Regions from separate parts of the Homo sapiens genome. Here region 2 is linked to region 1. Evidence: fine-mapped expression QTL. A gene starts in region 1. The other region holds a variant in brackets. All regions are shown on one strand. Distances are between the middles of the regions.

Region 1 (15,660 bases):
ATTCCCCTTTGAAGCAACAGTGCTTCCCCTAGAGCTTGGTCAAGGAGAGGGGCTGCAGGCAACCCCTGTGTCTGCCCCAAGAAAATGGGAGTTCTGAGCAACTTGGGTGTATGGAAAAAGGAAGCACTCTCCACAGATGGCTGAAAAGCATTGTTGGTAACATATGAAGCTTGAGTCTAGGGGTAAATGACAAGCCCTTTAAGTGGGCTCTGTTTCTTGGAGTGCTGAACTGTTCCCACTGTTTAACATAAAGAACCAAAGTAGCCCTTGCAAAGAGAGTGAGAATAATCTCTGACTCTGGCAGGCTCTTAGGACATCATAATTTTAAAATTGAGAGAATTTTTAAAAATCTAGATTTCTGTCTTTCCTTGGAAAATTGAGATGTTGAACTACCCTACTATGCTATTAAAATTGCCAGGTATGGTGGCTCATGACTGGGAGGCTGAGGCGGGTGGATCACCCAAGGTCAGGAATTCAAGACCAGCCTGGCCAATGTGGTAAAACCCCGTCTCTATTAAAAATACAAAAATAGCCAGGTGTGGTGATGTGCATCTCTAATCCCAGTTACTTGGGATTAGGGCAGGAGAATTGCTTGAATCTGGGAGGTGGAAGTTGCATGAGCCAAGATGGCGCCACTGCACTTTAGACTGGATGACAGAGCGAGACTCCATCTCAAAAAATAAATAAATAAATAAATAAATAAAATTGCAGTATCCATGACATCTTGTCCTAAACCCCATACTTTGTGCTTCCCTTACATTGCTTTGCTTCCTCTCTTTCCATAGCCCCAAGCATCTCCTAACTTACCATATAGTTTACTTATTTATTCTGTTTATTAGTCTGTCTCCTTCTGCTGGAATGTAAGTTGCATGAGGGCAGGGCCCTTTGTTTTGCTCAATGATCCATCCCAGGTCCTGAATATTGCAACCTGGCATTGAATAGTTGTATGCATGTTGAATGAATGTAGCCTGAAGCCTACATTCCCAATTTGTAGCAGTCACATTGCCTGCCTGGGCCCCTGAAGGCATGTGTATTTGCCATGCCTGCCCCTACTGACCTGCATGCCAGCTTCTGCCTTCCGTCCCCCTCAGGCTTGTTTCTCTGGCCACACTGGCCTGGCCTCTCCTGCCCCAACACTGGCCCTCCGCACTTGCTCAGCCAGAACGCTCTTCCTGCCCCTCTCTGCCTGGCTAGCTCCTGCTCCTGCTGTGTTCTCAGCTCAAGCTGTCCTTGATCCCTCTGCCTAGGTCACTCCCCCAAGCACAGAGAATATTCTGTCCTTAGTCACTGACTAGAGGAAATTCCTTTCATTCAGTTTTCAGACATAAAAAGCTCTTCATCCCTTGTGAATTAGGGTGCCCCCCCCCCGCCCCCGGCTACCCTGACCTCTGAGCTGAGGATACAGGTGGTGCCCAGCCCCTCTGAGTCAACCCTGGAAACCAGTTCTACAGTGCCAGGCAAGGAGCAACCCTGGGCCAAGGGCTGAAATTACCCCACTGGTCCTCTGTCTACCCACGACTTATATAAGGCTGGGCCTCTTCATCATGTCCTATCTGTGTCAACACTCAGGAGAGGGCCTGGCCCTCTGGCAACATGTTCATCCTTCACAGCAGGGCCAGGACAAACACTCCCTGACCAAGTAACCACAAGACAGAGGGCCCTTCCTGGGCACCTGGAGACAGACAGATGGAGTTACCAAACAGAAGATTCTGGGAAGGGGAACCCCAGTGGGCCAAAGAGAACTCTAGACTGACAGAGGTGTGGAACAGCTTCCCCTCTCTACCCAATTTTGAGATGAGGAAATTGAAGCCCAGAGAGAGTCAATGGTGCATCCAAAGCCCCACAGCACAGCGTCCCAACAGCCCCACAAGAACCCACAAGCTTCACTGTGTTTTCTGGGTCTGGGCTTCTGGGGCTGGAATGTCAGGAATTCTAGGTTCTGCCCCCATTAGCTGCAAGACCAAGACTTAGAAAGAGATGAGAATGGTTAGAATGTTGCAGCTCTTATCCGGGAATGTACAAAATACAGATGACTGGGCCTCACACCTCATTCCTTCCATCTGCAGGAGGGCCCTGACATGTGGATTTTGAAAGGCTCCTTGGAGATGCTGACTATCCATGCTAGATGGGCACCTGGATGATGTTTAAGTCCCTTCTAGCTTGACAAATCCTCAGCTGTAGATATTAAAATGCTGCTTGTGCTGGAGTGTATCCCTGTCATCAGTCCACAAGAGAAGCTCTCACTGGGGCAGCTGGGCTCCCTAGGGAGCACCCTGGAAATTAAAAAAAAAAAAACTTTTGGTTGTCATAATGATGAGGCTGGTGCTTCTGGCATTCAGTGAGGGGAATACTGCAGTCCCTGGGGCAGAAATAAGGCCCATGATGACTTTTCTCTCTCCCCCAGGTGCTGCAGGCAGGGGCAACAGGCAGGTCCCTCTTTGTTCTTAGTGAGGGATGCATCCCATCACATTGAAGAATTGTCCTGAGTCCTGTACATCTTTTGAATGTACTGTCAGAATATTCATAGAGGTGAAAAGCTAGTTCATAGGCACATGAGCCATAATCAACTTCACTTTACATGTACGTTTAAAAAAAAAAAAACACCCTGGTGCAGTGGCTCATGTCTGTAATCCTGAAGCGGGTGGATCACCTAAGGTCAGGAGTTCGAGACCAGCCTGGCCAACATGGTGAAACCTTGTCTCTACTAAAAATACAAAAATTAGCCTGGTGTGGTGGCAGGCGCCTGTAATCCCAGCTACTCGGGGGACTGGGGCAAGAGAATCGCTTGAACCGGGGAGACAGAGGTTGCAGTGAGCCGAGATTGTGCCACTGCACTCCAGCCTGGGCGACAGAGTGAGACTCTGTCTCAAACAACAACAACAACAACAACAAAAAAGAACACATGATTTTATTGCACAACCTACCTGGAGTACAACTACCATGTTGAGAGCTGTGTGTAAATTGTCCTGCATTTTGTCTGAAACGTTATCGACCTTAAGCCACAGTTTTGTAAAATCACATCATCCATGGCAATGCTGCTCACATAGTAATTGAGTCACTAAGACACTACCTCTATACTGGTCTGCATCTGCAGCTTTCCTATCCATGATGATTGTATCTAATTCTATGAATAGCCTAATTTAGTCCTTATGTCAAAATGTCAAATATAAAGAAAGCAGTGACAGCACTATTCAATTAAATATTGCCTTCCTGTAATGCAAACATATCCATTGTAAGTCCATGCCTCTGCCAACTTCATGTATGATTTTATCGTGACATTCCCTTTTAAAATTATAGTGCTATATTGATTTCAAGATAGTAAAAGAGAGTTACAAAACAATATTTGTTATAAACAGGGGTGTTGGATCTGGTTGGTTTAGGACTTACTGATCTACAAGCAATAAAACCTGCAGGAAAACAGTAGATCTGTAGCTCTCAGACAAGCCTTGCAAAGGTCTAGCATGCCCTAGAGAGGGCAAGGGGCACGTTGGAAGGACTAATCAACTTGTTAGGATCAGGTCCTGATGGGGATCGAAACCAGCTTCCAGCAACAATGTGAGAGGGCTAGGCTGGGCTTAGTCAATCACACGGCTCAGATTGGAATCTTATTTGAGTACACCCTGGATGTATGCGGAGGGTGTTAGACCAATAATTCTTGGCCGGGCGCGGTGGCTCACACCTGTAATCCCAGCACTTTGGGAGGCTAAGGTGGGAGAATCACTGGAGCCCAGGAGCAGCCTAGGCAACATAGTGAGGCATTGTCTTTATAAATTAATAATAATAATAATAGTAATAATTATTGAGTGCTTATGGTGGATCAGGCCTCATATGTGATGGGCACACACATACATCTCTTACAATTGCCACAGCAGTCTTAGGGTAGTTGTTAATTCTTGCTTTACAAAGGAGGAAGCCCAGGCTTGGACAGTTACAACAACTTGCTGGAGGCCACACAATGATTCCTGGGTAGAAAGCTGTCTCCCTGCCTTCAAAGCTATTTTGAGGCCACACAATGATTCCTGGGTAGAGACCTGTCTCCCTGCCTTCAAAGCTATTTTGTCAAAGGAAGTTTATATTTATTCAGTGTTTGAGAAACAGCTGCTCTCAGTTTTTAATGTTTTGCTAGGAGTGACTGTGCAGCCTGGATAGCAACAATGGTGGGTGTATTAGTCCGTTTCACACTGCTATTAAGAACTTCCCTGAGACTGGGGCATTTATAAAGGAAAGAGGTTTAACTGACTCACAGTTCCACACGGCTTGGGGAGGGCTCAGAAGACTTACAATCATGGCGGATGGTGAAGGGGAAGTAAGCCCCTTCTTCACAAGGCAGCAGCAGAGAGAAGAACGAAGGAAGAACTTCCAGACACTCATAAAACCATCAAATCTCATGAGAATCACTCAGTGCCATGAGAACAGCATGGGGGAAACCACCCCCATGATCCAATCACCCTCCCTCCCTCGACACATGGGAATTATGATTTGAGATGAGATTTGGGTGGGGACACAGAGTCAAACCCTATCAGTGGGCTTCTTTACGAAAGATGAGGTTTCCTTGGGAAATAACTCTTGGCTCTCTGAGGGCTTGGCCACTCTGACTTTGATCAAACTGGCAACTGGGGTATGTACCTGAGTGAGGTCAGGGGGCCCATGATAACTCGGTGACTTGCTGCCCCTTGCTCACTCCAGTTGGCAATGTCGGGGCATTTGGTCCCTGCTGTGGGGGCTCCCATGTCTGTCTGGCCCTTGGCCTCTCCTCCCCTGGTGGCCAGCTCTGCTGTGATCAGCTGAGCCTGCTGCTGGAGCTATGTGCTGGTTTCCTGCCTCTTCTTGGGCATTCTGGGCTCTAGGAACTGTTTGTTGGTTTCCTGTGGGCCATTCCTTTCCAGGATGGGCCTAGAGGCTGCAACCCTCCTAAGATCTGCCCACACCCCTGTCCTGAGGTGAGCTTCTCAAGAAGGTCCCCGGCTGAGCAAGGGGTGTCAGGAGCAAGAATGGAGGCAGGAGAGTGTGTGCGCCTGCTTTTTAGAGTGGGAGTGTGCACTCATGCATGAGTGGGAGGCTGTCATTAACTTGGCCATGGATGGCTGCCATTTTAAGCAGAACCAGATTTGCTGGCATGAATTGTTTAAATGATGGCAGGCACAAGCACTGCAGGGAGATCCTCCTAGCCTAAATTAAAGAAGCCACAGAGGGAAAAAATCCCAGACCATCTTGCTCCACACCTCCCTCCCCCGTCCCAAGCCTTCCGTCATCTGCGGGAATTTCAGTGCCTCACTGACACCTGAATGACAATCTTTTGTCATCCTGGAAGGCACCATGATGGTACCAAAGGACAACTGGGGAGCATTGGTTCCCTCCCCAGCCCCAAACAAACACGTTCTTCATCAGCCTCCTTAAGCCATCCCAAACAACCCACACGCTTAATACAACTATCGTGCCTTCTATCCGGGCAAAGTGCCATGTGTCTGTAGACACAGCTACTCAGGAGGCTGAGACAGGAGGATCGCTCGAGCCCAGGAGTTTGAGGCTGTAGTGAGCTATGATAATGGCTGTAAATAGCCACTACACTCCAGCCTGGGCAACATTATTGAGACCATGTTTCTAAATAAGCAAACAAAAATTGTGCTTTCTCTGCAAACAGAGTGTCTAGGGAAGTGCTTTTTACTTTCTTGTGCATTAAGATCATCTGGGGACCTTGTTAAGCTGTAGATTCTGATTCAGGAGGTCTGGAGTGGGGCCCCAAGAACCTGTATTTATAACAAGCTCTCAGGTAAAGCCAATGCTGCTCTCAGGGAAACCACACTTTCAGAATGGAAGTTCCAGATAGCCCTCCTCTGCCTCTGACCAGCCAGCTATGTGCCTGCTAACGTCATTCTGCTGTCAGAGGGAGTGTGGGGTAGGAGAGCAGGGTGGTCTGAAGTCTTTCTCTCTCTCTTTCTCTCTCTCTCTCTCTCTCACACACACACACACACACACACACACACACACACACACACACACAGGGCTTCATCGGCTCAGAGAGTTGCAAACCCAGACCCATGTTCTAGGCTGGGCTCTGCCAGGAACTGCTAGGAGTCGCATCTCTCTCTGGACCTCAGTTTCTTCACGTGTATTTGTGTATTCTCTGGGGTGGAGCTGGCGAATAGCTGGAGACCCCTCTAGCCCTACCATTTTTTGATTCTAATTAACCAAAAAGGATATTCGAGGTCCCCGCTACAAATTCTGAACCCTTGGCTTCCCCTCCAAACTCCCACACAAACTCCACCCCATCCTGCCTGTGTGTCTTTGGGAGGATCATTTCCTTCTTTGGTCTTGGTGTCCTTGTTTACAGGTTGAGGGATGATAAGAGTCACCTGATCTGGGCAAGTCAGGCCATAAATAAGGCTTGTATGTAAAGGTGCCTAGCATAGTTCTTGGCAAAGCAAGGATCAGTCGATATGATTGCATTGGTTTGAGCATCTGGGAAGAATGAGCAGACTGCATACTGTGTGTTAGGGTGTAGGGAGGAATCAGACGTGACCCTGCCCTCTAGTCATCTGGGTGCACAGATTCTAGATTAAAGGATGTGGGGGTGGTAACTAACAAGGAGATGGAGAGGAGGTGTGCAGTTCCTGGGGGATCTGATGAAGAATTAAAGCAGAAGGGTAGGAGATGGAGAATGGGAAGGCATACCTGAAACCCTAAAGCAACTCTTGATGAGTAGGCATTGGCAGGAGGCCCCAGAACATTTTCTGACCCTCAAACACTGAGAATGCATGTCTGCTGGGGAATAGTAGTGAGGGGGCTAAGGGTATGGGGGTGTTCATGCCTGAGTCAGGGGCTCTGGATGGTAGAAATGTCTGGGAGTTCTGACGGAATGGGGGTGAGGAGGCCTAAAGATAACCTGTTCATAGTCTTTCAGGGCCTTAACCATTATGGCTGGGGAAGTGGGAAGTGCCGATGGGGTATGCAGAGGAGGGCAGCTGTGATAGTACATTTCATCCTGAAAGCACTACATGTGGATAATGACGGTAGTGATGATGCCCTAATTTTAGTGTCATGGCAACATTTTCCAAGGGGATGGAATTGGGTACCCTCATTAGTGTCATTTTTGTTTGAGAGATTTCAAGAGTCTATCTAGGTGTCATTTTAAAATCTATTGAAAAAAAATCTTGAATGCAGGTCACTGACCAGTTGGTTCCATGTAACTGCACTGCCTTCTGCTACCACTAAAGCAATGTTATGACAACCTGGACAAGTCATGGGAAACCTATGTGAGACTTAGTTTTTTCTTTTTCTTTTTGGAGTTGGGGGTCTCACTATGTTGCTCAGGCTGATCTAGAGCTCCTGGGCTCAGACAACCCTCCCGCCTCAGCATCCCCAAGTGCCGGGATTACCGATGTAAGCCACTACACCCAGCTGAGACTTAGTTTTTTCATCTGGAAATGAAGGCGACCTTTGTGATCCCAGTGGGCCCTTGCACTTGTGTATAAGGTGATTCCCAGCACTGCTCATGAAAGTAGTGATGGCAGAGTAGCCTCTGCTCTCCATTTTATTTTTGGGGTGGGGGGGGGCAGTGGTGGAGGGGAGGATGAGGATGATATTTCCATTAAATAAGTTTCCTTGTTGCTTTTCTTCAGGCACCACTGACCTCGATGGAAAAATGAAGTCCCTGGCCCAGGAAAGAGACCCAACTCTGTGGCTGTTTTGGATTAGTTTGTACAATGCCCTGCAGACCTACTCTCTCAGGAGGCTCCAAGTGACCAAATGTGACAAGAAAGTTTTTTGTCCAAGGCAGTTTGGAAGAGAAGTTGGTGACCGTCGGGATACCACAGCCGCCCCAGGACGGCCTGGTTGAGACATTCACTGGAGGGTCTGGGTGCAGCCCGCTGCCTGGCCGGTAGGCGGCGCGCACAGGCCGTGGGGCCCGGGTCTGGGCGTGCGCGCGGCTGGTAGCAGCGGGGCCGCGCACGCCAGGGTCCGGGAGCCGGGCCGGTGCCCCCGGAGCCATTTCCGGGAGGGGCGAGGCCGGCGGCTGCCGGGCCTCCAATCTCGGCGGCGGCGGCGGCAACAGGGGAGCCTGGGTCTCGCGGCCTGCGAGTCCGTCGCGTGCTGAGGGAGACGCAGGAGGTGGAGCCGGCCGGGTGCTCGAGGGAAGGAGACTGGAAGCTGGTTCCGGCGTGAGGAGGTGGAGGGGCCGCCGCGGGCTCCGGGGGGCGGTGAGGGTCGGGACGGAGGCGCCGCGGGGTGAGGAGAGGACAGGGGCCGGGTGGGCCGAGGGCGGGCAGAGGCGGCGGGGCGGCTGCGGCCGGGGCGGGGGCGGGGGCGGGCTGAAGGCGTGGGCACCAGCCGCTGAGGTCCAAGCAAGTGGACGGCGGGCGGGCGCGGGGCCGCGGTGGGGCGGGTCTGGAGCCCACGCCTGCCGCGGGGTAGGCATGGGCGGCCAGGATTTGCTGGTCCTCCGACGGGAGGGGTGACAACGAGAGCGAGGCCGTGCTGATTCTGAAGGGAGTGCGGAGGAGGCAGGACCCTGGTAGCCTCGGCACCTTCAGCCCGGGTTAGGTGGCCTGGGCTGGGCTCCCCACCCCGATCGCGCGCAGACGGGGCGTTTCCCCTAGTTTCCACCTGGGTGGAATGCTTTGTGGGAGTCTGGGTCTGGATTAGTTTCATCAGCTGTGGGAGGGAAACCTAGTTGCAGCAGGATTTTGATTCGCTGGTCTGGGGTGCTAGGGGTGGACTGTGATATCTGGGAATGAAATCTGAGCCTTCAAAGGAGGGAGAGAACCATAACTTGGCTGCTCTGGCGAATCTAGGCGGGCTGGCGAGACAGTTTAAAGCTCTAGAAGTAAACAAACCTGGTTCCCTTTTACAGAGTCTGAAAAAGGGGAGCGCGGAGAGGAGGCTGGAAGAGGAAGATGCCTAGCACAGACCTTCTGATGTTGGTGAGCCTTTTGCAGACATCCTCCTGGTTCCAAGGCATTTGTCTCCGTTTTTTTAGTCCAAAGGATCCCAGTGTGTAGATTTCACCTCTGATGCTTGCTTTTGGTAGCTGAGCGTTTTGCCACCTTTTATTTTGTTTTGTTTTGTTTTGTTTTTTTGGAGACGGAGTCTCACTCTGTTGCCCAGACTGGGGTGCAGTGGCATGATCTCGGCTCACCGCCACCTCTGCCTCCTGGGTTCAAGCGATTCTCCTGCCTCAGCCTCCTGAGTAGCTGGGATTACAGGCGCACGCCACCACGCCCGGCTAATTTTTGTATTTTTAGTAGAGACGGGGTTCTCCATGTTGGCCAGGCTGGCCTTGAACTCCTGACCTGTGGTGATCCACCCGCCTTGGCCTCCCGAAGTGCTGGGATTCCAGGCGTGAGCCACCGCGCCTGGCCAACCACCTTTTATTTTGGATGAATGATCAGGATGAATAAATAGCTGAATTAAATACATCAATACAGTATATGTAGAACTTAAATTATTGAAGAATCTTTTTCAAAATTATTATTATTTTTTTTAAATGAGACAAGGTCTTGCTATGTTCCTCAGACCGGAGTGCAGTGGCTATTTACAGGCATAATCATAGCTCACTGTAGCCTGGAACTCCCACTTCAAGTGATCCTCTTGCTTCAGCCTCTGGAGTAGCTAGGACTAGGAGCACAGGTCACCTCTCCTGGCTTTCTTTTTCATAATTCTTGCAGTTTTAATCCCTCCCTTCCCGTACTACCAGAGCAGTTTTGAAACCTCTATTATTACGTTTTATCAGGGTCTGCCATATACTAGTTTATCTGAGTGTTTGTCTTCCAGATTAGAGTTATGGTTCCTCGACAGGCAGATAATCATGTCTTCTTTGTTTAGAGATGAATAAACACCTAGCATGGTGCTCTGAATATAGTATGTGCTTAACAAATGCTTGTTGGATTGAACCAGTATGAATTTAAGTTCTTTTGTTGGACAGAGAGGTATGCCTGCTTTAGAGCTGTTTCCTCTCCTCCTGAGATCTTTCTGTGCTGTTTTACTGAGCAGGGAAGAATAGCGTTGCTAAATGCATGTTTACCAAAATGACATTTTATTTTTGGGACTTTTATGATTCCTTATGGACTTCTTAGTGTGAGAATTATGGAGAGTTTATAGCTTTGAAATGGTGGTATAGAAAAAGTGTCCGGGTTTAGTTTTTTTTGTTTCGTTTTGTTTTGTTTTGTTTGTTTGTTTTTGAGATGGAGTTTAGCTCTTGTCTCCCAGGCTGGAGTGCAATGGCACAATCTCAGCTCATTGCAACCTTTGCCTCCCGGGTTCAAGCGATTCTCCTGCCTCAGCCTCCCGGGTAGCTGGGATTATAGGTGCACACCACCATGCCTGGGTAATTTTTGTTTTTTAATAGAGATGGGGTTTCGCCGTGTTAGCCAGGCTGGTCTCAAACTCCTAACCTCAGGTGATCCACCTGCCTTGGTCTCCCAAAGTGCTGGGATTACTTACAGGCGTGAGCCGCCGTGTCCAGCCAAGTTTGTTTGTTTGTTTGTTTTTGTCACTTCTCTGAGTGCAAAATCAGTGCTTTAAAAACAATTCATTTCTCTCTCTTTATCTCACTATCCCAGAGGGTGGGTTGGCGTCACTGGGAAACTGGCAAAAACTGGTAGTGAGATTTCCTTATACTGGGTGCTGACATCGTAGTGGCATAACCTGTAAGGTCTGCAGGGGGGCTAAAGAAGAGAGAAACTAAGTTTTGATCCATTGTGATTTGAGGCAGGGATCTAGGATAATTTTAGGTTGTATGTGAGAGACATAGATGAATACTTAGGTTATCCGCAGATCCCAATGAAAAGTTCATCTAAAATAGTATCTTGCCCCAAATTTCATGGATTTTTCAGTTTTAATTAATACCCTTATATAACTTAAAATTCTTATTCAAAGACCATTATGTTAGAAATACTGGAAACTATAAGTAAGCAAAAGGAAAGGGGATTTGTTAATCTCCCCTATCTCCTACATCCCCTTCATTCGCCTCTACCCCGTGCAGTAATTTATCACCCAGAAATAACCGCTGTGAGCATCTTGGATGGTTAATGCAGAGTGACTTGTAGCAATTGACAGTTTCTGTTTATCCTCTTACAGAAGGATATGTTTATGTAAATTATAGGTTCTTATATGTAAGATATTTCCCCATGCACAGAGATATGGTTATTACTTATAGGGCCTATGCATTTACTTTAACAGAACAATGACTGCTTTTACTCGGAATATTAACTTTGGAATCAGTTTTCTTTTGAGGTATTTCTCTAGCTGTTGCCACCACCTTTCACCTCCTCACCTGTTAATTTAGAATGTTTAGGAGTGTTGCTTTGCTTGTTGCTGTAAGGAATTAATCCACATAGATGCGAGTGGCCCTAGGCAGTCATCACTTTCTGAAGACAACATACATGTTGCATGAAGTGCTTTCACTGGAAAAGTTGTCATTCATTCCTTGACTGTAATGTATAATGCTATTTGGAACTAACTGGTAAAGAACCAATAACCATGGCTGGGTTTTCAGTGGCACACTAACCCATCATTCTATGAGGTGTTTCTCAAGCTACTTTATATGATATGTAAAACATGTTCTTGGCCCTCCACCTGGGAAGAAAGGACCTAAGTGAATAAAAAAATAACCTCAGTGCAGTGCAGCATCTCAGAATTAGAAATAGTCTTAGAAGTCATGGGATGCAGCTTTTTTTTTTTTTTTTTTTTTGAGACAAGGTCTCACTCTGATGCCCAGGCTGGAGTGCAGTGGCATGATCTCAGCTTACTGCATCCTCAATCTCTGAGGCTCAGATGATCCTTCCACCTCAGCCTCCTGAGTAGCTGGGACGACAGGCACATGCCACCATGCCCGGCTGATTTTTGTATTTATTTTTTGTAGAGATGGTAGTTTGCCATGTTACCCAGGCTGGTATCTAACTCCTGGGCTCAAGGGATCCAACCGCCTGCCTTGGCCTCCCAAAGTGCTGGATTACAGGCATGAGCCACTGTACCTGGCCTGTGATGCAGCTTATATTATACATGAATCTGTTGAAGAGTATCTCTGGTAAATGGATATCCAGTCTCCCGTCTTTTCTGCTAATGGAATAAGTGAGCAAAAGCTAGGAAACAATACAAGGTGGATTCAGGAATAGTAATGTTAACTCTGATAGCTAACATTTATTGAGCATGTATTACATGTTAAGTGTAGGAATACTGTACTTATTTAATTTTCACAAAAACCTTTTGGTATCCTTCTTTTACAGATGAAAAACGAGGCTTATAGAGAGTAACTACAGCAGTTGAGTGGTGGAGCCAAGTTTGACCTCAGTTGGTCTGACTTCAGATCCCTCCCTCTTGCCTACTTTGTGTCCTTACCCCTGGTAAGGGTAGAGGTTGCTGACCATTGTGACTGATGGGAGAGGGTCTGTGTGGAGCAGATGGGATAGGATAGCTCCACCCTCTAGGGGGCACTTTGGCAATGGGGGACTGGGGGAGGAGGGAGTCTTTTTTCTTCTAGTGTAGTCTGAAAATACATGTTTTATTATTAAATTATTATTAAATCTTGTTTATTGGGTCAGGCGTGGTGGCTCATGCCTGTAATTCCAGCACTTTGGGAGGCTCAGGCGGGCAGAGTACTTGAGGCCAGGTGTTCTAGACCAGCCTGGTCAACATGGCGAAACTCTGTCTCTACTAAAAATACAAAAATTAGCTGGGCATGGTGGCGTACACTTGTATTCCCGGCTATTTAGGAGGCTGAGGCAAGAGAGTTGCTTGAACCCGGGAGGTGGAGGTTGCAGTGAGCTGAAGCTGCACCATTACACTCCAGCCTGGGCGACAGAGCGAGACTGTCTCAAAAAAAAAAAAATTTGTGTTTTATTTTCTTTTACGTCGCATTTAATGAATTATATTGAAATTTTAAAACTTGTATCTGCAGGCATAGTGTTATAATCTTTAAATGCCATGTCAGAGTAGCAAAAGGGATTACAGAATATTTGTTATAAAAAGAGGGCATTGGGTCATAGAGTTGAAGACTACTTGTGTGGACAGTATGCTGTGAGAGAAAACCTGGAGATGACCTGGAGTCCACATATAACAAGCCTTGAATCCAGACTGACAGGCTCGGGCTATCAGCCCTCAGTGTGTTCCTGCCCTCAATTTTGTTATCATTTGATTAGGATAGTTTGCTTGCCTTTTTCCATTTGCTCGTATGTGATGTGTCATAGACTGCAGTACTTTCCACCTGTGTCTCATAGAGAATAAAATGAGTATGTTCATCTGCTGAGAGTTGTGATGATGTCAGAGGGAATTCAAGTCAGACAGCTTTGTAGCAGCCTTTCTCCCCCTTGGCAACCATTCTTTTTATTCATACTCTCCTCCTTGGTGCTAGAGGGTGGTATCACTTTGCAAGTTGCCAAATATTTGTAGTTTTTAAGAAAAAGGTATTTTATAAAGCCAGTCTACCCCTTAGGTGGCTTTTTTCTTTTCTCATCAGAAAATGATGACTAAATTAGCTGATATTCATAGATGAATCAAGGTTAGCGTGTGCACCCTGGTAGTGCTAGGTGGGGTTTGAGTGATAATTGCTTATCTAGGGCAGTGGTTCTTGACCAGGGGCAATTTTGCCCTCTGGGTGACATTTGACAATGCCTAGAGACATTTTGGGTTGTTACACCTGAAGGGTTCTGCTGGCATCTAGTGGGTAGAGGCTAGGGATGCAACCAAACACCTTACAACGCACAGTTTCCTGCAAACAAGAATTATCTGGCCTAGAATGTCAATAGTGGTGAGGTTGAGAAACTGGTATGAAGTTTCTTACCATAGATACCTGGATATCTGTGTAGTCTATGCTTTCATATGGGTGGGGGAGTGATTCCCTTCTTGGAGGTTAACGTGTCTGTTATTGTCTCACTTGGGGTTATTTTGCCCATGGGTCAAGCCTTGCTGCTCAGGAATATATATTGGAGATGGTGCAGCTGATCTTTTATAGCAATGCAGAATTCTTAAGAAATGCTGTCCTTTGCAACATTTCTGCACCACTCTTTTCTTGATTTGCAAACAGCAAGCTTCCCTCAGTTTTGTTTTTTGGGTTCAAAAATTGAATCTTTCCAGGTCCTTGAGCGTCTTTATCTGTGACCCTTGACTCTTTTTCAGGGATGCTTTCTTTCTGAATCTCAAGTGGGATTTAAGCAATAAACTGAAAGATTGACCTTAGGAGCTCTGTTCTATTATTTGAGCCTTGTGTCTTGTTTGTAGGATTTGCTAGAAGAAAGGGAAAATTCATTGGGATTGTTGATAGGACATTAAAAAATTTGTTGACATTTGAGTGGCCATTGCAGGATGAACACTGTATTTGGCAATCTCCCAGTGTTATAGATGAAACAGAGCTGTAATAATTTCCACAGCCTTTGGTTTAAAGGAAAAGAGGGTTATAAACAGATAGAATCCAAATCCCAGTATTTGACTTAGCTTTTCAGTCTATGTGTCAGGAATTTTTAGTAATATTTACCTTCTTAATTAGGTTTTACCCAATCTAATATTATATACAGTTTGTGCACATTGGTGGCAGAATTGAGAATCAGCCTGGGTTTAAGAATTTCCATAGGGAATTGATGTGAATCAGTCTGTATGTGTAAATGTACAGAACCCAATTACTGAGATAAAAACCATGCTGTGGGGGAAGGGGAGATAGGGGCCCTCTGAGAAGATGGAATGGTGAAGGCTGCGAGTAGTTTGTGGATATATCAGTCATATCTTGGCATAATCCAACAGCGTACTAAGGGATCAAGGGACTATTTTCAAGGCTGAGCAGGTTTAAGGAAAACATCTAGGTGAAACATCTAAGGGCTAGCTAGCAATAGGAGAGCCATTATCACTCTTTTTTTTTTTTTTTTGTCATGGCAATTTCACTGAAGCTTTTATTGCCTCTATTGGTAATATGACAGGGACTGTAAGAAACACAATTGAACTTACAGAGATATGCAGATGATATTCACTAAAGATAATCTTCATCTCAAGTATTTTTTATATGTGGGCACTTCTAATTTTATACATTTTTCTATTTAAAAAGCATTACATTTTAAAATTTGTACCTGTTTTGACATTTGGCAAAAAGGAAACTGTACCTATGGTTCAGTTTAAAACAAAGAATCAGCATGGGGAGTTTACCGGAATGAGGACTGAAACACTTAGGAGTTAAAGCAATTCAAGGGGCGTGTGTGTGTCTCTCCCTTTCTCCGTCAATCTCTCTCACTCTCTCTGGCTCTCTCACAGACACAGACTCAAACACACACAGCCATATGTGTAATCATTTTTTAGTACAAAATATTCCCTGTAGCCAGACATTTATCTTCAGAATAATCACACCACATTAAATCAGTCTTCTCTTTTCAGCCCTAGTAAAAGTTTTGTTTAATTCTAAGATGCCATCATAGTGAACAACCTTAACTTTTATCCTACATAATTATATTCAAAGCTTTATGTATTTTTGTTTATAATTACACAGTAATTATAAATGTTTAGTACCAACCTGATGACAAACACTATTTTGTTGAAAAGGTTTTGCATTTAAAAAGAAAAATATGTAAAATCCAAGGCACTAGGCCACGAACCAATATCAGACTTTTAAAGAAAACACTTTATATTGAAAAAAAAAAAAAAAAAAAGCTAATGGGATCTCATTTCAAAACACAGCATATGTGA
Region 2 (15,660 bases), 130 kb before region 1:
CCCAAACTCGCATTCATGAATCACCAGGCCTGGAAGCCAGGGAGCTGTCATTCCTGCCCAGCCTGGCTGGGCTCAAGGAGAGCTGCGTGAGGATGGGCCTGCTGGCATGTGGCCTGGAGCATGGGGCCATGACCTCACAGTTAATTCAGCCCAAGTGGGCAGGTCACCCCCTGTATATCCTTTTATTTTTGAAGATCTATATTTATCCAGCTTGGGGCTCGGCCATACAGAGATCTCAGCGGCCACTGTCCTCCTGTAAAAAGTTTTCTTTCTAACCTTGGAAAAATAGAGAACCGCTCCCCTCTGCAGCCCCACCTTCTCCTTGACACGTGCCCATGGTCCCCTGGGTTTCTAGGTGTGTTTGTTTTGCCAGCTGCGTTCTTGGAAGTTTGGGGAGGAGGGCACTACCCCAGCCTGGGCTGGTGACTTCAGCACACTGGGGAGTTTGGGCAGATCTGCCCTTCCCTTTATTTGCCCTGTTGGCTTTTGGGGAATTTTAGTCCTTTTCTGGGCAGAGCCCAAGGTCGGAAGTCTTGTTGCTAGTGACCGGGCTCTGTCTGGTATCATTTGCTTTCTTCTGCTAAGTTTAAAAAGGACCTGGGGGCTACAGGGAGTGCCACAAGGTACCCGAACACCCTTCATCCAAGTGTAGGAATCCTGGAGCTCAGGAAGCAATGGATGGAAAATGGGTGAACTCAGGCTAAGGGGCCCACCTAAGGGTGACACTGAGAGTTCCTATCCCTCCCTGCCCGCGTGGGATTTCTGACTTCCCCTTACCTCTGAACCGACTGCATTGAAGTGACTCTTTGTTTACCTCCAACAGAGCTGCACCTCTCTGGAAAGCTCAGTGACTATGGTGTGACAGTGCCCTGCAGCACAGACTTTCGGGGACGCTTCCTCTCCCACGTGGTGTCTGGCCCAGCAGCAGCCTCTGCAGGGAGCATGGTAGTGGACACGCCACCCACACTACCACGACACTCCAGTCACCTCCGGGTGGCTCGCAGCCCTCTGCACCCAGGAGGGACCCTGTGGCCTGGCAGGGTGGGGCGCCACTCCCTCTACTTCAATGTCACTGTTTTCGGGAAGGAACTGCACTTGCGCCTGCGGCCCAATCGGAGGTTGGTAGTGCCAGGATCCTCAGTGGAGTGGCAGGAGGATTTTCGGGAGCTGTTCCGGCAGCCCTTACGGCAGGAGTGTGTGTACACTGGAGGTGTCACTGGAATGCCTGGGGCAGCTGTTGCCATCAGCAACTGTGACGGATTGGTAAGGGATGAGACTTTCATTAAGCTGCATCCTCCCCCTCCCATGCCCTGCTCACATGGTTTTGAGATTGCTATGGGCATGTTTTGCAGTCTGGGCCAAGGCAGGGGTGGTGCTGCCTTCCAGAGGGAGTGCCGCCTGCCCCCGCGGGCCACTAGGTTCATGCGCTGCCAGGTGTGAAGTGGCCAAGTTGGGATGATGTTCACCCCTCGCCTTCCATGGACCCAGCTGGATCACAAGCTGTTTGGCTGGTGTTTCTGAGTGCAGAGAGACACTGGGGTTGGAAGTGTGGCTGAGCCACTGCCTAGCTGTGAGGATTTGGATGAGTTAACCTCTCTGTGGTTCTTTCCCTTATTTATTTTGCACATATTTACTGTTCTAGATGCTGGGGGTACAGTGGTGCCTGAGACAGACGTGGCTTCTGCTCTCCTGGAGCTGACCCGCGAGTGTTAATGATATGGCCTGCCTAACTGGGCAGTGCACTGGGGGCTGTCCCTGCCTGGCTCGTGGCGTGGGCACAGTTAGCGGCTGCTATTATGTCTTGTAACATTGCGACGTCGTGTCCTTCCTCTTCTCCTCCCTGTCTCTCCTCCCAGAGCCAGCCTGCTCTTTCCTGGCTGCTCTGTGTGTCCCTTTCCTAGGACCCCCACTGCTTCCGCAATGCTTCCCAGAGTCTGGGAGCGCCTCTGCTAGTTGGCTCCACATTGCAAACCAGAAAGCCATGGGGTGGGCTGTCTTTCTCGCCCCCACCTGGGGTTGGCTCTCATTCCCCTCGCTGCTCCTCCTCAGTGTGCAGGCCCTTGTGAGCTGGCACAGCAGCCTCAAGGTCCTGTTGGGCAGCTCTTCCCTGCCCCAGAGACATCAGATGTGAGCTGATGGGTCTCAAGAAGGGGCCCGCTTGCTCCTCTGCCCTTCAGCTTTGAGAGCGAGAAAATTTGAGATGGGGAGGGGTTGTGGGTTCCTTCCTCACTGGCAGGGTGGGGAGCATTTGTCACCATTGTCTCATGTGTAGGAGATGTCTTATCTGCTGATTTCGTGGCTGCCTCTGTCTAGGCCAGTGCTTTCCACCTTTTATCATGATGTACCCCTAAATGTTTTAGACATTTCCTCCCAATCATCAGTCTACCCCACGATGAGGTTTTTTTTTTTTTTTAGAGGTGGATTTTCACTATGTTGCCCAGGCTGGAGTGCAGTGGCTATTCACAGGCACAAACACAGGGCACTGCAGCCTCGAACTCCTGGCCTCCAGCCATCCTTCTGCCTCCGCATCCCAGGAGCTGGGGCTATAGGTGCTTGTCACTGTGCCTGGCTTTCCTCATGCAATTTTAATACCACAGATATACTGAATATCTGTTTATACACTGAATATCCATCTGTGTTTTATATATTCAAAGGTGTAATATTTTTGCCTTCCCCAGAATAAATTTTCATCCCATTGAAGGTGGTAGGGCCCTCATGGAGAGGGCTTATCTACATGGTAGTTGGTTCTCATAGTTGAGCATGCACTAGAATCACCTGAGCACCTTGTCAGGTGCGCAGAATCTGCCTCTCAGGGGAGGGACCAGGATCTGATCATTACCAAACTCTGCAGGTGAACTGATTCAAGAGTTCCTGAGAGCGGACTTCGAGAAAGCAGATTGTCAGGGCAGCTGGGGGAGCCTAAGGCCTTGTCAGGTGTCTGGGCTGAGCCTCTGCCGCCAGCCCACTCTGGCTCTGCGGCTCTGTGCCACAGGGGCCCTTGGTCACCCCGCTGGCTAGAGCTATGCCATGGCCACAAGTTTTGGTGGAAAATCCCAAGTGATGTTAGGAATCATCCAGGGATACAGTATCCATGCAGGTAGAGAGAAAGTGCTGGTGCAAGCCAGCAGCTGAACTGAATTAGATGGTGAATTCCTTCTAAAGTCATCACACAGGTAGGCTGTAAGCTCCTCAGTGACAGGGCTAGGGCTCCAGCTTCTCTGACTGCCCTCCTGGAGCGAGACACAGAGGAGATGCTCAATATATGGTGAGAACCTAAACTGAGGATGACCGTCGCTAATAATAAGTGACTCCCCACCCCCTTTGCATCCTGAAAACCTCCCTTGTCATTGAACCAGCTCAGCAGCCCATTGACAAGTAGTGACTGACCACTAGGTGCCACAGGGACCAGGGAGGGCCCTGAAGGACCCTGAGCTAGCACTCCTGAAGCACGATCACATGGCTACGTGGTGTAGCATATATGGTGACAAGTCTTCATGCTCTGGTTTTGGGGGCTGGCGGATGGTGGAGGTGGGGCTGTTCAGTGGGCCTGGGGCTGGGGATTCCTCAGAGGGTGTTGCTGATTTTTGGTGGCCTCTGAGTAAATGTTCTCATTAGCTGTGTGACCTTGGGCAAGTCACCCCCTCCCCATTTCTGAGCTTTACTCTTCTCATTTGTCCAAAGAGGGACTATACTTGATATTCCCTGGAAGATGGGAATCGATTCTGTGTGGCATTTGCTGAAGCCGGATCGGGTCTCAGAGGCTGTCCAGGTACAGGCTTCTGGAGGCTTGCTGGGTAGCTGGTATAGAACTGAGGCTCTAGGAAGTGACTTGCCTGGGTCCCCCTCCCCTTGGTGAGGGGCAGAAATGGACTTCACTGGGCTGAGCTTCAGGCTGGACCACAACATGTACCCTGGCTGTTTCCAGAGGCCAGTCCTGAAGTCCAGTATCTGGACGCCTCCCCTCCAGGCCCTGGGAGTGGTACTCCCTGACTGCCTTCCACTGGGGCCGCCGGCACAGAGGTCACCCCAGGCTGGGATTCCTTGACTTTCCGCCCACTCCAGGAAATGGCCCTGTGTCCCGTGACAGCAAGGGGCTGTGTCCCAGTGACCCAGCTGAGCTCACCTTTGGACTCAAAGGCCACGGTGTAGCATTTCTGATAAGATTGAACTCTGCATCTTTACATGGTCTCTGGATTTTAATCCCATATTCTCTAACATCTCAAATGCCAAAGTCATTCATTTCAAAAAATTTGTACTGAGTGCTGACCATGGACAAGGTCCACAGGAGATCATAAAGAAAATGAAAGTGACACAGATAATGACAGCAACAGTAACGGGTTCTTCCTGTGGCCCAGACACAGCATGCATATGTGTATGTGCTTTTATTAACTCCATCCATTTGCAGATGAGGAAACTGAGTCATAGGCGGAGATACGAAGATAATACAGATAGCTTCCATTAGTACAGGACTTTATAGTTTACAAAGCTCTTTTGCTTCCTTCAATCTTCTGAAGTGTGTATGCAGATATTGTTATTACTCCTGCTTTGCAGAGAGTCAGGTCCCTGTCCTCGAGGAACTTGGGTGCCATGCAGGGGGAAACCCACCAGTAGTTTCAGCATTCACTTGGTTTTCTAGAACACAGTGGGGATGGGTGCTCAGTAAATGGGAGTGATTGTTTTCTTTGATGTCAGAGAAGGTGACATTTGAACTGGGCCTTGAAGGATGAGTAGAAGTTTGCTGGGGTCAGGGGGTGGGGAGGGCCTTCTGGGCAGGGGGAAGAGCTTGAGCAGGCTAGTGATGGTTGGGCAGAGGAAGGAGCACCATGTCAGGTGGGGCTGGGGAGTGGACCCTAGAAGACACGCGGGGCAGGGGGGCTTGGTCTGACCTTGAAGGAAGGGCAGGATGGAAGAAGGGGTGTGGGGCAGGGATGGGGTAGGTTGCTCTCTTGAAGAGGCTGGGCTGGGAGTTGAGAGATAATGGCTGCGTGACTCTGAGCAAGCTGGCCCCTTCTCTGGGCCTCAGTTGCCTCCTGGGTGCATTAAGGAAGCTGGGATGTGTAAGCTCAGACCCCTTCCAGCTCTGGCATTGGTGCTTTGTGGCATGGGGCTGACCTTGTTGGAGTTTGGAGCCAGGCCCCTGTAAACCTGTAGTTGATGGCTCCCTCCTACATTGTGGTTAATTCATGCCTAACACTGGGGTATGGGATACTTTGTCTTACTTCCCACCCACTGTTATGGAGGGCCTTCTGGGTGTCCTAGCTGTGGGAGGGGAAAGAGAAAGATCCAGGAATGAAAAAGCAGGGCCCTTGCCCTGGAGGGGTTTGTAGGCTAGTGGGGACCCAGACATAAAAGCAAACTTGAGAATCTAGTGAGAGGCAGCAGGAGAAGGACCTGTTTAGTTTGGTTAGGGCATCTAGGAAGGTTCCCTGGAGGAGGTAGCAATTGCTCAAGACTGTTCAGACATTATAAACATGAAAGATAGTGCCAGGCCCCTGACCAGCAGAAAGAATGACTGACCCAGCCAGTCTTGAGGATGTCCAGGGGCAGGAAATAAGGGATGTGGGGGCGGGGCCTGGTCCTGCCTGCAAAGTGCTTCCTCTGGGGTTGTGGGCAGCTAGCCTGGGATGCTGTTAGACCTGAGAGTCCCAGACTGGGAATGTGTCCAGTGACCTGACGGGCCACTCTTCAGAGCCACTAACACTCTGCACCTGGGAGGAACATGGGGTGGGGATCAGTTCTTTGCGGATCCTGGAGAAGTTGTGGCGTGCAAGGTTGGGGTCGGCAGAGTGGGGTCCCTGCTTCTCAGTGGGGCTGCATGCTCACTGTGCCCATCTAGAATCCAGGCCACCAGCCTCCTGAAGGGTTGCTTCTCCTACGGCCATCTCTGCCTCCCCAGGCCCTGGGGCCTGATGCCCTGCGACGGGGTGACGGGAGCTTGGCTGCACCGTGTTTCCCCCTTTGCCTTCAGTGCCTCTGTGAGTCAGGGCCTGGCGCGGAAGCAGCCACACGTGTAAGATTTGTCACCATCTGGTTCTGTTTTCCACTCTCTGCAGATCTTGCATTTTTGATGGGTTATACTGAGTAGACCCTGGCAGACGGCTTTGGGAGGGGCAGGGGAGGCTGCATCCCAGCCCAGCTGCTCACCACTGAACAAGTCACAGAAGCTCCTTCGGCACCTCCCTGTTGTCTTTAAAATGGGACTACAGTGTGGGGTGGGGCGGGGGGAGTTGAGAACTTCAGGGTAAGGGCCTTCTTTATGGGAGGCTGAAAATATTTTAAAATTGTGGCAGTGGTTACACAATTCTGAGAATATACTAAAAACAATTACAATATGCACTTTAAGTGGGTGAATTATATGGTATGTTATATCTCAATAAACCTGTTACTGGCTGGGCGCGGTGGCTCATGCCTGTAATCCCAGCACTTTGGGAGGCTGAGGCAGGTGGATCACCTGAGGTGGGGAGTTTGAGACCAGCCTGGCCAACATGGAGAAACCCCGCCTCCACTAAAAATACAAAATTAGCCGGTCATGGTGGGGATGCCTGTAATCCCAGCTACTCAGGAGGTTGAGGCAGGAGAATCGCATCGCTTGAACCCGGGAGGTGGAGGTTGCAGTGAGCCAAGATTGCACCACTGCACTCCAGCCTAGGCAACAAGAGCGAAACTGTCTCAAAAAATAAATAAATAAAAAAAATAAAATAAACCTGTTACTAAAAGCACCTGGCCTATGGAAGGGCCCCACGAAAGGTGGTGTTCGTAATTCCAAGGAAATAGTCTAGTTTGGGGGAAAGAGCAGGATGTGCTCACTCCAGCACAGATCAGCTGTGGGACCTTGAGCGAGTGTCTTCATCTCCCTATGCTTAGATTCCTCATCTGTAGGAAGGGCAGAGGAACAGTTGTCTATGGGGTTGTTCAGAGGATTAAATGAGATAAGGCAAAGTGTAGGGCATGGTTTATGGCAGGGCCTTAAAAATGGATAAAAGTCTGCAACCTC[C/T]GCCTCCTGGGTTCAAGTGATTCTCCTGTCTCAGCCTCCTGAGCATCTGGGACTACAGGCGTGCACCACCATGCCCAGCTGATTTTTGTATTTTTAGTAGAGTCAGAGTTTCACCATGTTGGCCACACTGGTCTCAAAATCCTGACCTCAGCCTCAGCTGATCCACCTGCCTCTGCCTCCCAAAGTGCTGGGATTACAGGCACCGCACCCAGCCAATCGTGATTACTTTTTAACAGTGATTATTAATAATGATAAATATTACAAATATCATCAGAGTCCCTTTATTGCAATGATATATAGATCATTGGCATTATCTGACTGGCCCTTGGCCAAGTCCTGGGGATGCAGGGATGAAGCTCAGCCCTCTGCCCCTGTATTCCAGAAGCCCACGGTTTAAAGGGGAGGCTGAACTGCACAGTAGACAGTAAAAAGCAACACAGACCATACTAAGCTTCAGTGATTTGTGGGAATACAGGGAAGCATAATGCATGCCAGGGGTGGCTTGGAGGTGAGTACTGAGAAGGAGGGGTGCTCAGGGAAGGCTTCCAGGGTAGGGGACATTTGGGCTGGGTTTTAAAGGATCAGTAGGGGTTTTCAAAGCCACGGAGTGAGAATTGTAGTCATTCTGTAGGGAAGGAAATCCTGTGTCTCTGCAAGATTCAGGAAATGGCAGGTCATTTCAGCTCTCCGTGGGAGAGGGAGAATGGTGAAAATGTAATTGGAAAATGTCAACCTCACCATGGAGCTTGGCCTTACCCCTGGCATCATGGGGAGCCATGGAGGTTTGTAAACAGGAGTCACATTAGTGTTTGAGAAAGACACTCATCCTTCCAGCTCGATGCTGGTGCACAGCAGACTTGTCTGTGGCTTTTTGGTCTCCTGTGCCAAACACCTGTCCTTGCCCCGGGGGCTGCTCTTGACTGGCTGGATGAGTGAGTAGGCGTCCTGTGGGCGCCCTGGGAAGCTGCGGGTCGGCTCCACATTCCACCCTGCTTTGGAGGTGTGGAGTGTGGAGGCTTGGAGTCTCACTGTGACCTACCCCCTCCCAGACACCCAGCTGGCTTGTCCCCTTACATCTTGACCTGCAGGCCTCCTGCCCTCACACATGTGTGCCTAGAGACCCTGGGAGGGGCAGGGGGCACCAGAGCCCTGTGTGTGGCCCCACATTGGTGCAGACCTTGCTGCCTTGCTGACCTGCCTCTCTAGCCTTATGGGCTCCAGCTCACAGATGGCTGTCCCCGCCCCTGCCCTGTCCAGGCTGGCCTGCTCTCGCCTCACTTTTCAGCCCCTTCCCTTGGCTGTGCTGTTCACACCTTCCCTGTCCCCTCACTTGATGTATGTCCCATTTCAACTACCAGTTCCTAGAAATCAGAGACTGTCTTAAATGTGTGCATTTCCTGGAGCATTGAGCATAAGTCTGGGCCCCTGGGTTGGAGGGGCAGGAGGTGGAAATTTCAGATGCACCAGGAGTAAGCAGGTAACAGAAGAAAGAGAAGAGGACCGGGTAGTCATAGGGGGTGGGATTATGGCAAAAGGGAGAGGACTTGCCCACTCCAGTGTCACTCTGGTATTATAAGAGGTTTGAGTATTGTAGGAGAAATGGGAAATATGGATTTTTAGGTAATTCTTAAGCCATTGTATGAACCAAACCCAGCAAGGCTGTTAGCTGGAGGCCTTGGGTTGCTTGTGAGCTCAGCAGCATGTGCTGGGGGGTGAGTGTGACCCTGGAACCAGCCCGCCTGGGCTGAAATCCCAGCTCTGCCTGTTACATGCCATGACCCTGAGCAGTTAGCTCACCTCTGTGTGGTTCGGTTTTCTCATCTGGAAAGTGGGGATCATAATAGTAATCACTTCATACAGTTGTCATGTGTGTAAAGGGTTTAGTGCAGTCCCCAGTACACTCAGCTGTTGCTATTACATGGTGTGGATTACTGGTTGGTTGAGTCTACCAGGTCTGAGGGGATGGTGGCAGGAAAGAAGTCAAGAGCACCCCATTTTTCTGGCTGCCACTCCCAGAGGGGTCTCTGGGTTTTCAGTGGGGCACACAGAGCCCGTGTTGGCCTTGGACCCCCTCAGGCCCGTTAGTTTTCTCGGGGTGCACCTTGCTTCTCCTTCAGTTTGCTGCTGGCCCTGAACATTCCCACCTGTAGTTCCCAGAGGTGCAGGGCAGAGTGTGGTCACCTATGTGTCCTCATGACCCAGCACTGGGCCTGCCGGACAACCGTCTGGGTGAGGAGGCATAAACTCCTGTAGTTAGATGAGGGGACAGCATTTGTCGTCCTCTCCGTGGCTATCTGGCCATCTGCTCCTAGGCCAGAGGTGGTGACTGCTGAGGCACGCACACTGCCATTTGCCCTCCTGCGCCCTGGCAGGCCCTGCAGGCCCGCTGTGGCACGCTGTCCCTGGGCCTCAGACCCCCCTGCATGTGCTCACGTAGTCACTCTCCGTGGGCCGAGTGGGCGTGTAGGGGAAACCCGTTTACCTCCCCGCCCTCAGCACTCCCTTCGTGAGCAAGTTTCTGTCTTCAGGGTGCACACCCTCTCTGAGAGTGGGAGCTGGTTTCTCATGTTTGCCACTTAGATAACCCGGTTTCCTGGGAAATACTGGGTACCTCTCGGCAATCTGTGTTTGCAGCACACGAAACAAGAAAGGGAGTCTTTGGAAAGAAAGGGGGCTTCTCCTGACCCGCCTGCCAGGGTGACTGTGGGTCTTCAGTGTGGAAAGAGGAAGTCACTGCTTCGTGATTGGGGCAATGTGAGGGCCTGGAGGACACAGAGGGGCTGTGGTCTGCATGGGAGTGTCTTGATCCCAGCCAAATTCCAGGAGGTGGGCAGCACAGGCTCTCCTGGGGAAATAGGCAGGGTGGGAAACTGAGTGACTATCAGTTATCATTCTTGTGTAACAAATCAGTCTAAAACTTGGAACTGAAAACAACATTGTGTCCTTCCTCACAACTCTGTGGGTGGGCTGGCTGGTTCCTCCCCTGCCTGCTCCAGCCTGCTCACGTGGCTGTGCTCCGCTGAAGGGTGGGCTGGGCTGGAAGGCCCAAGCTGGCTTCTTTTACATGACCAGCATGGTGCTGGCTGTAGGCCGCGCGGCCTCAGTTCTCTCTGTGGCCAGTTATCCTCCAGTAGGCCGTCTCAGGGTAGCACTCCAACAGGGGGAAGGTGGAAGCTAGAATACCCCTTGAGGCCTAGCCTTGGGAGTTGCATGTATTAGTTCATTCTTGCACTGCTATAAAAAAATAACTGAGGCTGGGTAATTTAGAAAGAAAAAAGGTTTAATCAGCTCACAGTTCTGCAGGTTGTACAGGAAGCATAGCGGCTTCCACTACTGGGGAGGCCTGAGGAAACTTCCAATCATGGCAGAAGGCAAAGGGGAGTGAGGTATCTCGCATGGCGGGAGCAGGAGCAAGATAGAGAGCAGGGGAGGGGGGTGCTACACACTTTTAAACAACCAGATCTCATTCACTGTCACGGTAACAGTGCCAAGAAGATAGTGCTAAACCATTCATGGGAAACCGACTCTGTGATTCAATCACCTCCTAGCAGGCCCCACCTCTAACATTAGGGATTACAATTTGAAATGAGATTTGGTGGGGACACAGATCCAAACCATATCATGGCATAAGATCACTTCTGCACCTTCTGCTGGTCAACGCAGGCCATAAAGCTGGACAAAATTTTCCAAGAGTGGGGAAATGGACTCTTCCATTTGAGGGAAGGAGTGGTAAAGTCTCATTGTAAAGAGATGGTGCACAGAAACAAGAGGACAAGTTGCAGCCATCTTTGCAAATATTCTTCCACATTGCCCCTAGGCAAGTGATTTGACGTCTCTGAGCCTCAGTTTATGTATCTGTAAAGTGGGTGTCCCTACCTTGTAGTTTTGTGGGTTAGAAATTATGCACTTAAAGTGCTGCCACAGTGCCTGGAGAAATAAAAGTTAGCATTTCTTCTTCTTCCTGCTGATGTCTTAGAATAAATAAGGAAACTGAGGCAGGATCCACAGCAGGTTTGTCTCCAGCTCTCTGGGCGCCCATGCCAGGGCTCTTCCCCCTGCTTTCCAGAGGCCCCCTCCTGTCTGGGCCGCTGTCTGTCTGAGCAGAGGCCCCGGGCCTGGGTCCTGGGTCCTGGGTCCTGGGTCCTGGGTGGTTTTCCAGTCCTCCAGCCAGTCTGATCTTGCAGTTTTACCTCCCTTGTCTCCTCATGACCATGCTTCACTGTCTGCCCTGGATTAATAACTTATTTATGATATGGAATAAAAGCCAGACATCACCTCACTGCGGCTCCTCCGGAGCAGAGCCGGCCTCCCATTCCAGCAAGGGCTGGTTTTATTTTTCTTCCTCTGTGTCTTCAGGCACTGGCTGGAGGGAGGGCGGCCTGAGGGCTGCTTAGCAGGCTGGTGAGAGTGATGGGGGCTGTGCTTGTCTCTCCATGTGCCTTCCAGCCCCAGGGTGGTACAGGCCCAGGGTGGGCTCTCAGTGAGGGCCCAGGAGATTCCACATTCCCAGGCACTGCAGTGGAAAGTTCCCAAACCATCCACCAGGCCCAGCATTCCATTTTCAGCATGTGGGTCTTGCCCTGCTTTCAAAGCCCTAAAAACAACAACAGTGATAATATTTACATGCTGCTTCATCCTTAGCAGCACCAAGGAGCTCCCTGTCAACATAAGCTCAGGCACCTGCAGATACCCTTGTGTTATGAAAACCTGCATGGATCCCAGCTCAGCGTACTTTCCACCATTCGCCCTGACTTTGGCCTGAGTTGGAGACAGCTGTGGCTGGAAAAGGCTTTGGGGCCCTCTAGCTCCCTCTTCATTTTCCAGTAGAGGAAGCCGAGGCTCAAGTTGGGGAGGAGATCCAGGGTCATGGAATAGCAGGTGAGTGTCAGGTGTCAGGGCACGCAAGGACCAAGGTTCCTGACTCCCAGGCAATGTTCCTCTCGCAGTTCCAGGCAGCCTCTCCTGTCAGTGGAAAGGCCAAGCGTATGTGAACAGAAACTCAAGGTCGTAAACTGTGTGCTGTCCCGTGATATGGTAGCTGTGGCAACAGCTTCAGAATGATTAATGCTAAAAGTGATTGGTCTAATGGTGGTGGGAGGTGAAGGGGCCTGGGGGTACTGAGTAGAGGTGTTTATGAGGCTCCCACTATGAGGGGGAGGGCTGCTTAACTTCTGCGTGTCATTGTCTTCTCTGAAACTGGGAGGCCAACTAAGAAAAACAGATGTCAATGGCCCAGTTAGTGGGATTTGATGCTCAAACGGAACCTTCTGGTGTTTCTCAGACTCAAGTCACCAGTGCTGCTGTTTTATCCATTTTCAAAATATTGGAGAGGGAGAGGGCTGCTGTTATGTACACATTACTTGTCATGGAACATTGAAAAACCCTGCAGTCTAATTTTCTTCTGCTTTCAGTAGCATGGCTGATGGGGCAGTAGAACAGGCCCCTTTTTAGAGAAATGTCTGGAGGTGAGATCGTTTGTTAGGACCAAGTTGGTCTGAATGCAAACTCTGTTCCCAACGGGTGGCTGAAGGCCTTTGTCAGCCTTTGCTTTTTTTTTTTTTTTTTAATTTATTTTTTTATTGATAATTCTTGGGTGTTTCTCACAGAGGGGGATTTGGCAGGGTCATGGGACAATAGTGGAGGGAAGGTCAGCAGATAAACAAGTGAACAAAGGTCTCTGGTTTTCCTAGGCAGAGGACCCTGCGGCCTTCCGCAGTGTTTGTGTCCCTGATTACTTGAGATTAGGGATTGGTGATGACTCTTAACGAGCATGCTGCCTTCAAGCATCTGTTTAACAAAGCACATCTTGCACCGCCCTTAATCCATTTAACCCTGAGTGGACACAGCACATGTTTCAGAGAGCACAGGGTTGGGGGTAAGGTCACAGATCAACAGGATCCCAAGACAGAGGAATTTTTCTTAGTGCAGAACAAAATGAAAAGTCTCCCATGTCTACTTCTTTCTACACAGACACGGCAACCATCCGATTTCTCAATCTTTTCCCCGCCTTTCCCGCCTTTCTATTCCACAAAGCCGCCATTGTCATCCTGGCCCGTTCTCAATGAGCTGTTGGGCACACCTCCCAGACGGGGTGGTGGCTGGGCAGAGGCGCCCCTCACCTCCCGGACGGGGCGGCTGGCTGGGCGGGGGGGGCTGACCCCCCCCACCTCCCTCCCGGACGGGGCGGCTGGCCGGGCGGGGGGCTGACACCCCCACCTCCCTCCCGGACGGGGCGGCTGGCCGGGCAGAGGGGCTCCTCACTTCCCAGTAGGGGCGGCCGGGCAGAGGCGCCCCTCACCTCCCGGACGGGGCGGCTGGCCGGGCGGGGGGGCTGACCCCCCCCACCTCCCTCCCGGACGGGGCGGCTGGCCGGGCAGAGGGGCTCCTCACTTCCCAGTAGGGGCGGCCGGGCAGAGGCGCCCCTCACCTCCCGGACGGGGCCACTGGCCGGGCAGGGGGGCTGACCCCCCCCACCTCCCTCCCGGACGGGGCGGCTGGCTGGGCGGGGGGCTGACCCCCCCACCTCCCTCCCGGACGAGGCGGCTGGCCGGGCGTGGGGCTGACACCCCCACCTCCCTCCTGGACAGGGCGGCTGGCCGGGCGGGGGGCCGACCCCCCCACCTCCCTCCCGGACGGGGCGGCTGGCCGGGCAGAGGGGCTCCTCACTTCCCAGTAGGGGCGGCCGGGCAGAGGCGCCCCTCAACTCCCAGACGGGGCGGCTGGCCGGGCGGAGGGCTGACCCCCCCACCTCCCTCCCGGACAGGGCGGCTGGCCGGGCGGGGGGCTGACCCCCCCACCTCCCTCCCGGATGGGGCGGCTGGCCGGGCAGAGGGGCTCCTCACTTCCCAGTAGGGGCGGCCGGGCAGAGGCGCCCCTCACCTCCCAGACGGGGCGGCTGGCCGGGCGGGGCGCTGACCCCCCCACCTCCCTCCCGGACGGGGCGGCTGGCCAGGCGGGGGGCTGACCCCCCCACCTCCCTCCCAGACGGGGCGGCTGGCCGGGTGGGGGGGCTGACCCCCCCATCTCCCTCCCGGACGGGGTGGCTGGCCGGGCTGAGGGGCTCCTCACTTCCCAGTAGGGGCGGCCGGGCAGAGGCGCCCCTCACCTCCCGGACGGGGCGGCTGGCCGGGCGGGGGGCTGACCCCCCCACCTCCCTCCTGGACGGCACGGCTGTCCGGGCGGGGGGGCTGACCCCCCACCTCCCTCCCGGATGGGGCGGCTGGCCGGGCGGGGGGCTGACCCCCCCCCCGACCTCCCTCCCGGACGGGGTGGCTGCCGGGCGGAGACGCTCCTCACTTCCCAGATGGGGTGGCTGCCGGGCGGAGAGGCTCCTCACTTCTCAGACGGGGCAGCTGCCGGGCGGAGGGGCTCCTCACTTCTCAGACGGGGTGGTTGCCAGGCAGAGGGTCTCCTCACTTCTCAGATGGGGCGGCCGGGCAGAGACGCTCCTCACCTCCCAGACGGGGTCTCGGCCGGGCAGAGGCGCTCCTCACATCCCAGATGGGGCGGCGGGGCAGAGGCGCTCCCCACATCTCAGATGATGGGCGGCCGGGCAGAGAGGCTCCTCACTTCCTAGATGTGATGGCGGCTGGGAAGAGGCGCTCCTCACTTCCTAGATGGGATGGCCGCCGGGCAGAGACGCTCCTCACTTTCCAGACTGGGCAGCCAGGCAGAGGGGCTCCTCACATCCCAGACGATGGGCGGCCAGGCAGAGACACTCCTCACTTCCCAGACGGGGTGGCGGCCGGGCAGAGGCTGCAATCTCGGCACTTTGGGAGGCCAAGGCAGGCGGCTGGGAGGTGTAGGTTGTAGTGAGCCGAGATCACGCCACTGCACTCCAGCCTGGGCACCATTGAGCACTGAGTGAACGAGACTCCGTCTGCAATCCCGGCACCTCGGGAGGCCGAGGTTGGCGGATCACTCGCGGTTAGGGGCTGGAGACTGGCCCGGCCAACACAGCGAAACCCCGTCTCCACCAAAACCAGTCAGGCGTGGCGGCGCGTGCCTGCAATCGCAGGCATTCGGCAGACTGAGGCAGGAGAATCAGGCAGGGAGGTTGCAGTGAGCCGAGATGGCAGCAGTACAGTCCAGCTTCGGCTCCGCATGAGAGGGAGACCGGAGGGGGAGGGGGAGGGGGAGGGGGAGGGGGAGGGGGAGGGGGAGGGGGAGGGAGAGGGAGAGCCTTTGCTTTTAAGCCAGCCACATATTTACACCTTTGGTCTGTCCAGAAACAGCCTGCCACTTTCCCCTCCAAGCCACTCCCGTCCCCCAGGCAGAGGTTCACATCCACCCCTTGAGGCTGGCAGGGGCCCACACTCTATGAGTTAGCTCCTCCAGCCTGAAGAGGCCTGTGTTCCACAGCCTGGCCGACTGCTGGCCTGGGTGCATCGTGCCTTTGAGGCTTTGTCACTTCAAAATTCATAGTCCCCGCGTAGGGAGATGCTAGGTAAAATATGCCGTCCCCTAATCCACGGCCACAGTTTTGGGGAAGCGGATCTCTCACAAGGGTGGTATACCCAAGGGAGTTTGTTTTAAGGCCTGACCCGAAGGATGCTTGTTTAGCATGGTTTCATTCCAAAGTCAGTTGTGCAGCACCAACCAGTTCATCCCCCTGAAGCTCACGTCTAGAAGAAGGACAGAGATACCTGGACAGGGATAGAGCACCT

What was found.
Region 2: its variant is fine-mapped to the expression of SGPL1 in whole blood (INTERVAL, PIP 0.94).

What each region holds. Positions count from the first base shown.
Region 1 is chr10:70,807,960-70,823,619 of GRCh38, forward strand. SGPL1 (sphingosine-1-phosphate lyase 1) reads left to right here and starts at 7,989. Exons shown (of 15, transcript NM_003901.4): 1 at 7,989-8,167; 2 at 8,852-8,921. The coding sequence starts at 8,895. RefSeq lists silencers at 7,785-8,104, 8,125-8,214, 8,295-8,404.
Region 2 is chr10:70,673,733-70,689,392 of GRCh38, forward strand. ADAMTS14 (ADAM metallopeptidase with thrombospondin type 1 motif 14) reads left to right here. Exons shown (of 22, transcript NM_080722.4): 2 at 824-1,263. Among named protein-coding and RNA genes, the nearest start is that of ADAMTS14, 9.1 kb to the left of the region's middle. RefSeq lists enhancers at 8,877-9,722, 14,451-15,095. The variant C/T (reference allele first, on the strand shown) is at 6,995.